Linked DNA regions of Homo sapiens. The protein of the gene in region 1 purifies or fractionates together with the protein of each later gene. This does not show direct contact. Each region holds a gene or a part of one and is shown in the gene's direction. Other genes may lie near its edges. The genes, in order: IDH2, AZU1 and RAB11A.

The links.
Region 2: the proteins of IDH2 (region 1) and AZU1 purify together in Homo sapiens (co-immunoprecipitation; one large-scale study listed by IntAct). This does not show direct contact.
Region 3: the proteins of IDH2 (region 1) and RAB11A fractionate together in Homo sapiens (co-fractionation; one large-scale study listed by BioGRID). This does not show direct contact.

The regions. Positions count from the first base shown.
Region 1 is NC_000015.10:90,095,773-90,099,500, reverse strand, and holds part of IDH2 (isocitrate dehydrogenase [NADP], mitochondrial isoform 1 precursor), read left to right. Parts: intron 1-3,728. UniProt on the Homo sapiens protein: Plays a role in intermediary metabolism and energy production. It may tightly associate or interact with the pyruvate dehydrogenase complex.
Region 2 is NC_000019.10:826,139-829,966, forward strand, and holds the start of AZU1 (azurocidin preproprotein), read left to right. Parts: upstream 1-1,698; 5' UTR 1,699-1,708; coding exon 1,709-1,766; intron 1,767-2,091; coding exon 2,092-2,248; intron 2,249-3,423; coding exon 3,424-3,568; intron 3,569-3,828. UniProt on the Homo sapiens protein: This is a neutrophil granule-derived antibacterial and monocyte- and fibroblast-specific chemotactic glycoprotein. Binds heparin.
Region 3 is NC_000015.10:65,889,490-65,892,489, forward strand, and holds the end of RAB11A (ras-related protein Rab-11A), read left to right. Parts: 3' UTR 1-2,500; downstream 2,501-3,000. UniProt on the Homo sapiens protein: The small GTPases Rab are key regulators of intracellular membrane trafficking, from the formation of transport vesicles to their fusion with membranes.

The DNA.
Region 1 (3,728 bases):
GCAAGACCCTGCCTCCCCCTTCTCCCCCCAAAAAGAGAAGAGCTAAGGAGAAACAGGCAAGAAAGGTGTGTGCACAAAAGTTTGTATAGGGCAGCCAGAAAAGTCCTCACTGAAGGAATCGCTGAGGAGGGGAGGAAGCAGGCCATTTTCGGTATTGGGGGAAGAGGGACTCGCAGGTGCCAAGGGCATGATGGAAGAGCAGAGAGGATGGTGCGAAGGCTGGCTCAGCAGGCACCAGGTGGAGTGACAGGATGAGGTTCGGCAGTGGGGTCTGTAGAGGGCTCACAGGCCATTTTTGAGAGCTTTCGCTTTTACTTTGCAGGGTTTTGAGAGGAGTATCGTTACCTGATTTCCATCTTATCGGGAGCATTCTAGCTTCAGGGACCTGGCAAGAGAGGATGATGGCTTGGACCTGGGTGGTGGCGCTGGGGATGGTGAAGAAGTGGTTGGATTCTGGATATATTTTGAAGGAGGAGCCAGTAGTGGGGAAAGGTTCCAATTCAGGCGATTTTACATAAAAATCTAGATACGCAGCAGGCACTCACTTATGGCAAGGGTGGGCTTGTCTGAGGGTGGCTTCTGGTTTTGGTGGTTTGGATGTGAGAGAAGGGAAGGAATGAAGGATGACACCAAGGAGTCTACTAGAGTTTGTTCCAAAATGGCTGTTCTGGCCGCGTGCGGTGGCTCCCAGGACTTTGGGAGGCCGAAGCAGGCGGATCAGTTGGGGCCAGGAGTTCGAGACCTGCCTGGCCACCATGGTGAAACCCGGTCTCTACTAAAAATACAAAAATTAGCTGGGTGTGGTGGCAGGCGCCTGTAGTCCCAGCTACTCAGGGGCTGAGGCAGGAGAATTGCCTGAACCCAGGAGGTGGAGCTTGCAGTGAGCCGAGATCACGCCACTGCCCTCCAGTGTAGGCGACAGAGTGAGACTCTGTCTCAATACATACATACATACATACATACATACATGCATGCATACATACATACATACATACATAAAATATACAAAGTTGCTGTCCTGCCTTCTTGAGCCCCCAGGAATTGGAACCTTTCCCCACTCTCTGATCTTTTGCTGGGACATGCTGACTGAGCAGCCTTTCTGCTGAGAGCATGGGTAGGAATGTGGAGGGAGCAGTTATGCCTGGGGCTGGCTGCCTGCGGCTGGACCTCTAGCCTCCTGCTGGGAGCAGCAAGAAGCCAGGGATGTGTTTTGAAATCCTTACTTGGTATTGGGTGCTAGGAGCCCCAGACAGGGAGGAGAGTCAGCCTAACGTGCCTCTGGTGACTGGTGTAATTCCATCCTGCACTCTCGCCAAGAGGACAGTGTTTGTGCAATGCATCAGCTGAAGATTCGTGGTGGCTGTCACTTCGGAGGTTTTCAGGGAGGCCTAGCTGCTGCTCTGTGTATTTCAGGTAGCTTGTCACCACTTATCTCTCAGAGAAGGGCAGACCATGGCTGTATCTCCACCATACAGGCTGAACAGCAGACAGGGGTCTCAAACTCCAGTGCCCTGGGCCACACTGGAGGGCACTTGGCTGTCATGGAGTGAAGGGAGAGGCCGCCTTCAGCCCAGCCCATCCTTGCCATGAGTGAGTGCCTGCTGCATTTCTAGATTTTTATATAAAATCTCCTGATTTTTTTTGACTGGTTTAAATTTTTATTATTTTGGTAAAAAACGTATAAAACTTACCATCTTAGTCATTGTTCAGTGTACAGTATTGTTAAGTACATTCGCACTGTTGTGCAGACATTACCACCATCCATCACCAGAACTTTGTCACCTTGCAAAACCGAAACTCTCTACCCATGAAACAATACCTCCCCACTTCCCGTCCCCAGTCCCTGGCAGCCACCTTTTTACTTTCTGTTTCTATGAATTTGACTATTCTAGGTACCTCATGTAAGTAGAAGCATATAGTATTTGTCTTTTGTGACTGGTTTATTTCACTTAGTTAGCATAATGCCCCCCAGGTTCATCCACTTTGTAGCAGGTGTCAGAATTTCCCTTCTTTTCAAGGCTGAATCATATTCCATTGTATGTAGATAACAGTAGTCCCCCTTATCCTTGGAGGATGCATTTCAAGATCCCCAGTGGATACCTGAAACTGCAAAGCCTGTAGATACTATGTTTTTTTCCTATACATACAGATCTATGATAAAGTTTAATTTATGAATTAGGAACAGTAAGAGATTAGCAATAATAACTAGTAATAAAATAGAACAATTATAACAATATACTGTAATGAAAGTTACATGAATGTGATCTCTTAAAATATCTTACTGTACTGTACTCACCTATTTTCAGACTATGGTTGACTGTGGGTAACTGACACCACAGGTAACTGACGTCATGGAAATAAAACCTTTGATAAGGGGGGACTGTATCACATTGTCTTTATCCATTCATCTGTGATGGACACGTGGGTTGCTTCTATCTTTTGCTGTTGTGAACATTGCTGCTATGAATGTGGGCATACATATATCTCTTTCAGACCCCGCTTTCGATATTTTTGGATGTATATACAGAAGCAGAATTGCTGGATCATATAGTAATTCTTGTCCTTTTCTTTTCTTTTTTTTTTTCGAGACGGAGTCTTGCTCTCTTTCGCCCATGCTGGAGTGCAGTGGCGCGATCTCAGCTCACTGCAAGCTCCGCCTCCCGGGTTCATGCCATTCTCCTGCCTCAGCCTCCCCAGTAGCTGGGACTACAGGCGCCTGCCACCACGCCTGGCTAATTTTTTGTATTTTTAGTAGAGTCAGGGTTTCACTGTGTTAGCCAGGATGGTCTCGATCTTCTGACCTCGTGATCCACCCGCCTCAGCCTTCCACAGTGCTGGGATTACAGGTGCGAGCCACCGTGCCCGGCAGTAATTCTTTTCCTTTTAGCTAAGGAACACCCATACTGTTTTCCACAGCAGCTGCACCATTTCACATTCCCACCAACAGGGCACAAGAGTTCCAATTTCTCCACATCCTTGCTAGCACTTTATTTTCTGTTTTGTTTTTCTTTTCCTGATAGTAGCTCTCTTAGTGGTTGTGAGGGGATAGTGGGGTGATATCTCATTATGGTTTTGATTTGCATTTCCCTGATGATTAGTGATGTTGAGCATCTTTTCATGTGCTTGTTGGCCATTTGTATATCATCTTTGGACTTGAAATGTCTATTTAAGTCTTTTGTCCATTATATTTATTTATTTATTTTGAGATGGAGTCTTCCTGTTACCCAGGCTGGAGTGCAGTGGCATGATCTCTGCTCACTGCAACCTCCACCTCCTGGGTTCAAGCAATTCTCCTGCCTCAGCCTCCCAAATAGCTGGGACTACAGGTGTGTGTCACCACACCAGGCTAATTTTTTTTCTATTTTTAGTAGACACAGAGTTTCACCATTGTGGCCAGGCTGGTCTCGAACTCCTGACCTCAAGTGATCTGCCCTCTTCAGCCTTCCAAAGTGCTGGGATTACAGGCATGAGCCACGGTGCCCAGCCAGTCTTCTGTCCATTTTAACGTTGAGTTATTTGTTTTATTGTTGAGATTTACTGATTTTTAAAACTTGGTCACCAATTAAGATTTTTTTAAAAAACCAGTACCTGGAACAAGCAGAACAAGTCTCTGCTGGCCTTGGCTCATGTTGCTGTTCTCAGTTCCCCTGGGATGTTTGCTTCCAGGGAGGCCTGGGCACTCCTGACTTTGGTGACAGCCCTGCTTGCTCTCTCTCTGTTACCTGTAG
Region 2 (3,828 bases), on another chromosome or scaffold:
ACAAAATATACAAAAATTAGCCGGGCACGGTGGCGGGTGCCTGTGGTCCCAGCTACTCGGGAGGCTGAGGCAGGAGGATCAGTTGAACCCAGGAGATTGAGGCTGCAGTGAGCTGAGATGGTGCCGCTGCCCTCCAGCCTGGGCAACAGCGAGACCTCAACTCTGAAAAAAACAAAAGAAGGAGATGAAATTTACATAACTTAAAATTAGCCATTTTGAACGGTACAGTGAAGTGGTTTTCGGTGCATTCACCGACTTGTGCAACCATCACTGCTGTCCAGTCCCAGAACATTCCATCACCCCAAAGAAGGAAGCCCCATCTCCATCCATCAGCCATCACCCCCTGCCCTCCCCCGGCCCCTGGCAACCACAGATCCACTTCCTGCCTCTGCAGATTTGCTTGTTCTGGACATTTCGTCTATTTATTTTTATATAGTTTTTAATTTGTTTTTATTTATTTTTTTTGAGACGGAGTCTCTCTGTGTCACCCAGGCTGGAGTGCAGTGGCGCAATCTCGGCTCACTGCAACCTCCACCTCCCAGGTTCAAGCGATTATCCTGTCTCAGCTTCCCAAGTAGCTGGGACTATAGGCGCCCGCCACCACGCCCAGCTAATTTCTTTTTTTTTTTTGAAATGGAGTTTTGCTCTTGTCGCCCAGGCTGGAGTGCAATGGTGCGATCTCGGCTCGCTGCAACCTCCGCCTCCCAGGTTCAAGTGATTCTCCTGCCTCAGCCTCCTGAGTAGCTGGGATTACAGGCATGTGCCACCACGCCCAGTTAATTTTGTATTTTTAGTAGAGATGGGGTTTCTCCATGTTGGTCAGGCTGGTCTTGAACGCCCAACCTCAGGTGATCTGCCTGCCTCGGCCTCCCAGAGTGCTAGGATTACAGGTGTGAGCCACCGCACCCAGCTTGTCAATTATATCTCAATAAAGCTGTTGAAAAAGTTTAAAAAAATCACCCAATCGGGCACAGTGTTTCACACCTGTAATCCCAGCATTTTGGGAGGCCGAGGTGGGTGGATCACCTGAGGTCGGGAGTTTGAGACCAGCCTGGCCAATATAGTGAAACCCCATCTCTACTAAAAATACAAAAAATTAGCCAGGCGTGGTGGTGGACAACTGTAATCCTAGCTACTCAGGAGGCTGAGACAGGAGAATCACTTGAGCCTGGGAGGCGGAGGTTGCAGTGAGTCGAGATCACACCATTGCACTCCAGCCTGGGCAACAAGAGCGAAACTCCGTCTCAAAATAATAATAATAATAATAATAATAATAATCACCCATACAGACGCGCAGGACTCAACGCAGGACTGCCAGCTCCACTGCCCTGAGCCCCCCGGTGCCAGGCCCAGCGGGCAGTGCTGGAGCCCCAGTGGCTTGGGATGGGGAGACTGGGACTCTGAGCTGGCAATGTTCCTGGGTGCTGGCTGCATGCCCGCCATGTGCTGGGCTCCGGGATCCACTGGTTCCTGACACCCTCACCTGCCCCTGGGGGTGTGGCCATCTTCTAGAGAGGGAAACTGAGGATCAGTGCAGAATGTAGGGGGAGCCCAGGCTGGCCCAGGGAGCAGTTGGCGGTGGAGGCCTTGGGCAATTTCCCGTGTTCCCACTGAGTGGGGCTGTCCCTGGGCCTGGGCGGGGACGCCACCAACTGCCAAGGCCTGTGTATAAGGGCAGCCGCCGCCTTAGCCACAGACCTGCCCCGCCATGACCCGGCTGACAGTCCTGGCCCTGCTGGCTGGTCTGCTGGCGTCCTCGAGGGCCGGTGAGTGCCTCTCTGTGCCGGTGGTCCCCCATCTGTGCTAGGGCCCGGCTGCCAGGGCAGAACTCAGACTTAAAGCACAGAGAAGGCAAGCGGCTTGGCCTGGGTCACACAGCCAGCCCGGCCTGGACGATCCCGCGAAAGGCGTGAGGGCGGACGGTGTGCGGGACTCAGGGGCCCCCTGTCCTCTTAGGGAGTGGGACGATGGGGGAGGGTGGGTCCCCCCGCAGCCCCACTGGGTGGATAGAGCTGAGGCTGCAGCTTCACACGCCCTCCCGGCCACTGTGTGGATTCTTGGGGATCTCAGAGCTGTCTCCCCCCGACCCAGGCTCCAGCCCCCTTTTGGACATCGTTGGCGGCCGGAAGGCGAGGCCCCGCCAGTTCCCGTTCCTGGCCTCCATTCAGAATCAAGGCAGGCACTTCTGCGGGGGTGCCCTGATCCATGCCCGCTTCGTGATGACCGCGGCCAGCTGCTTCCAAAGCCAGTGAGGGGTCCTGGGGAGGGGGCCTAGGGGGCATTGGGGCTCAGAGAAGGGGCTTGGGGGGCTTAGGCATTCAGTGGGGGTGCTTGGTAGGTGAGGAGGGGAGGGGATTGCAAAAGGAGGGGCTCAGGGAAAGGAGGGGGCTTGGAGAGGGAAATGGGGACTGAGTTGAGGAGGGACCCAAGGATATTGGGGGGCTCAGATGGAGGAGGCCCAGAGAAGGGAAGGGGGTCAGATGGAGGAGGCCCAGAGAAAGGAAGAGGCTCAGATGGAGGAGGTGCAGTGAAGGAAAGGGGGTCAGATGGGGGAGGCCCAGAGAAGGGAAGGGGCTCAGATGGAGGAGGGGGCCCAGAGAAAGGAAGGGGCTCAGATGGAGGAGGTGCAGAGAAGGGAAGGGGGTCAGATGGGGGAGGCCCAGAGAAGGGAAGGGGCTCAGATGGAGGAGGTGCAGAGAAGGGAAGGGGCTCAGATGGAGGAGGTGCAGAGAAGAGAAGGGCCTCAGATGGAGGAGGTGCAGAGAAGGGAAGGGCCTCAGATGGAGGAGGTGCGGAGAAGGGAAGGGGGTCAGATGGAGGAGGTGCAGAGAAGGGAAGGGGGTCAGATGGGGGAGGCCCAGGGAAGGGAAGGGGCTCAGATGGAGGAGGGGCAGAGAAGGGAAGGGGGTCAGATGGGGGAGGCCCAGGGAAGGGAAGGGGCTCAGATGGGGGAGGCGCAGAGAAGGGAAGGGGGTCAGATGGAGGAGGTGCAGAGAAGGGAAGGGGGTCAGATGGGGGAGGCCCAGATAAGGGAATGGGGTCAGATGGGGGAGGTGCAGAGAAGGGAAGGGGGTCAGATGGGGGAGGCCCAGATAAGGGAAGGGGCTCAGATGGAGGAGGTGCAGAGAAGGGGAGGGGGTCAGATGGAGGAGGCTCAGAGAAGGGAAGGGACTCAGATGGAGGAGGGGGCGCAGAGAAGAGAAGGGGCTCAGATGGAGGAGGAGGCGCAGAGAAGGGAAGGGGCTCAAGATGGGAAGGGGGCCCTGGAAAGTCTCGGCTCTGCTTCTGTAAAAGCGGGGGAGTTTTCAGGGTGAAGGATTGCAGTCTGCAGGCTGGGATCCCCCCTAATTTGCAAGCCGGCTTGCTCTGTGCCCAGGCCCCAGCCTGGTGTCCTCCCTCTGCCCTTTCCTCCGCTACTCTCAGGAACCCCGGGGTTAGCACCGTGGTGCTGGGTGCCTATGACCTGAGGCGGCGGGAGAGGCAGTCCCGCCAGACGTTTTCCATCAGCAGCATGAGCGAGAATGGCTACGACCCCCAGCAGAACCTGAACGACCTGATGCTGCTTCAGGTGAGAGGATGGTGCCACCTGTGATCCCAGCACCTCGGGAGGCCGACGTTAGCCAGGGAAACAAGTCCAAACTTGGTCTCTACAAAAAAATACAAAAATTAGCCGGGAGTGGTGGCGCGCACCTGTGGCCCCTGTGCTTCAGGAGGCCGAGGCGGAAGGACGGCTTGAGGTCAGGAGTTCGAGACCAGCCTGGGCAACATGGCCAAACTCAGTCTCTACAAAAATATATATGTGTGTGTGTGTGTGTGTGTGTGTGTGTG
Region 3 (3,000 bases), about 24 Mb from region 1:
TGCTTTGGGTGCAGCCGTGGAATCCTGATGTAAAAGCATAGGTTCTTGCATTACTGAGTAAACATTGAATTGGGAGCATCAGTGTGTGAATTCAGCTTTGATTTTAGAACTGCAGTTCAATTATGCTTTCCTTGGAAAAAGTATGTCCAAAAACATTAGGAAAGTAGTGTGTATTTTCATATATAACAGTGTCACCAGACCCAGGAAAAGAAACCATCTCTATTTTATTGAAAGTTGGTGGTAGATTTTTTACAAAGTAAGGAGAAAAGAGAAAAACTAAATAGTGAATTGAAAATGAATAAAGTAAACTTAGAATTTTTACCCAAGTGTAGACTTAAATGTTGCTTTGAGTATGGCTGGATCTTGGGAGAATTCCAGGAAATATTAGGTATTAGAAAATGACTTTGATTGCATTTCAGCAGGTGTCTTTATTCTGAGTAGTATCTTAGGAGACAAACTGTCTCAAGCAAGAAACAATAAATTTTTAAATATTATGACAGTTCAGGGCTTAAGGCAGTTTAGAAGTATTTTGCTACTTGACCTTGATTTTCAGTTATTTTAACTTTGAATTTTTTTTTTTTTTTTTGAGACGGAGTCTTGCTCTGTTGCCCAGGCTGGAGTACAATGGCACCATCTCAGCTCACTGCAAGCTCCACCTCCAGGGTTCATGCCATTCTCCTGCCTCAGCCTCCCGAGTAGCTGGGATTATAGGCGCCAGCCACCACGACTGGCTAATTTTTTGTATTTTTAGTAGAGACGGGGTTTCACCATGTTAGCCAGGGTGGTCTCGATCTCCTGACCTGGTGATACACCCACCTCGGCCTCCCAAAGTGCTGGGATTAAAGGCGTGAGCCACCGTGCCTGGCCTTGAATTTTTTTTTAACCTGTTATATAGTCTCCTGAATAGTTAGCCATGGTGCCTTGATTTAATCTTATGTCATTGTTCTCAAATGCCATGATTTCTCTTTAATAGTAGTTGTCATTATGTAAGGGTAAGTTATTGCCCATTTAATTGTAATTATAAGAAGAGGTGCCAGCTAGTGACCTTACATCAGTGATCTTTTAAGTTCTGAAGGGTTCTGCAGAAAAGTTACACTTCTTGAGTTTGGGTTGCCCATCAGAGCTGGTCACATTTCTTTGATCATTGAAAAAATGAATATCTTAATTTTTGTCTTTGCTGACTGGTATTTATAAAATACAAATGCTTTTAGTGGGTTGAGCTGTTGTGATAATCTCTTCCATCTACCTTAGAGAAGAAGCTGTACTATTTAGACAGTTTTGGCCAACACTAGAAGCAAAAGAATTCAAAGGCTGGGTGGATATTTAAGAACTTATTCTAACCTGTCAGGTTTCAATTTGTGGGGCTTGGTTTAACAGAGGAAAAAAATATAAATTGATTTTCTGATGTCTCACAAATATCACATACCTGGAAAAAAATTAAAACAAAAAATGAATTTTGTAAAAGGTTATGTATGACTTCCATTTGCTCTGTAAAAAAATGAACAAAGATTGTGAAAGGATCCTCTTCCACCACATCATTTAATGGGTTAGCGGAACAGATAGGGAGCTATGACACTAGCACCAAAGAGAGATTTTTCTTCTGGTTGGGTGGTGCTGGTGCCACGCCCCTTTCTGGGATTTGACAAGTCTTTCCCACTCACCTATACAATATGCCAAATCAACTGGAGTTGTCATTCTAATGTTTTAAAGAATGATTGGGTTCCCCCAAACTGTAGGAGGTCGATGGTAACAATAAAGTGATACAAAATGCTTATGTCATTATAATTTATGTAAGGGAGACCATTAGGCTGAGAATCAATATGATTGAGGTTATCTATTCTCCTGAAAAGTGAATTGGAGAATAAAGAAAGAATATTTGAAAGGATGTTGTGTACTAGGCAATATACTAGCATGTATTAGAAAATACGGTAAACTGTGGGTTAGAAGAGTGAAAGTAGCTGGTATGATAGAGCACTGGACTGAGTAACGAAGAGATTCTAGTCATGGCTCTTGTGGTCATTTCATTTTTGAGCCTCACATTCTTCCAATTAATGAGGGTACCAGATTAAATAAACTCTGGGGATTCATCCCAATTCGAACTCTGTAATTCTCTGAATGAACTCTCTCTTCAATTAAAGCCAAATTATTAACATTTTAACTCAAGTTTAAATTTAATAGAGAAGTCAAAATGAGGTATGCACTTTGTGGAATGTTTTTGGTCTTATCACAATAACCTGATTAAAATGGTGCCTTTATTTCCATGTTTACTCCTTTAAATAAGATGAAAGCTTTCAGAACATTTATTTGCAAAATGACTGTCAATATCAACAATATGCATCAAAGTACCATATATGCTAAGGGAGAGGAGCACTTGATGGGCTGCTATGTTAACTGTAAATTGAGAACTGCTTGTTTTATGGCTTTTGCTGTTAAAAAAAAACTGCTGGCTTTTAATATGTACTTTAAAATATACTCATGTCTGGGAGAGAACTTTTAAAAACATTTTGTGTTTAATTTTTAAAAAATTATTTCTTTAATAGGAATCTACAAGAAGGTAGATCAGTCCACAGGCTAGCTATCCAGTAGAACCAGTGATTAAATCCAAGTGTACAGGTTTATGTGTGCATGTACATGATACACATGGTATTTTGGGGTTGTTGATCTAGTGATCTAATTATTAATAGTCAAAACATTATTTAAATTCAATTCTTTGACATTTATTAATTATAGGATAGTTCCTGACACGGGTGTGAGCACAAAATGTTATGTATATTGGCTAACTATGTTACCAGTACCAGTGATGGTAGTGAGAATTAGCAGCCAACAGGATTCCTTTACTATGTTTGAGTCAGTGGAACTTAACCTTGCTCCAAACCACAAAATCTCAGACCTTTTTAACTCTCATCCCAATGAATAATGTACTGTTTTTAGCACCTGTCCCCCTGTTGACAACCTCTAATCTCTCAGCATACCATTTTCTCAGGTATTTCTAGGGAAGTG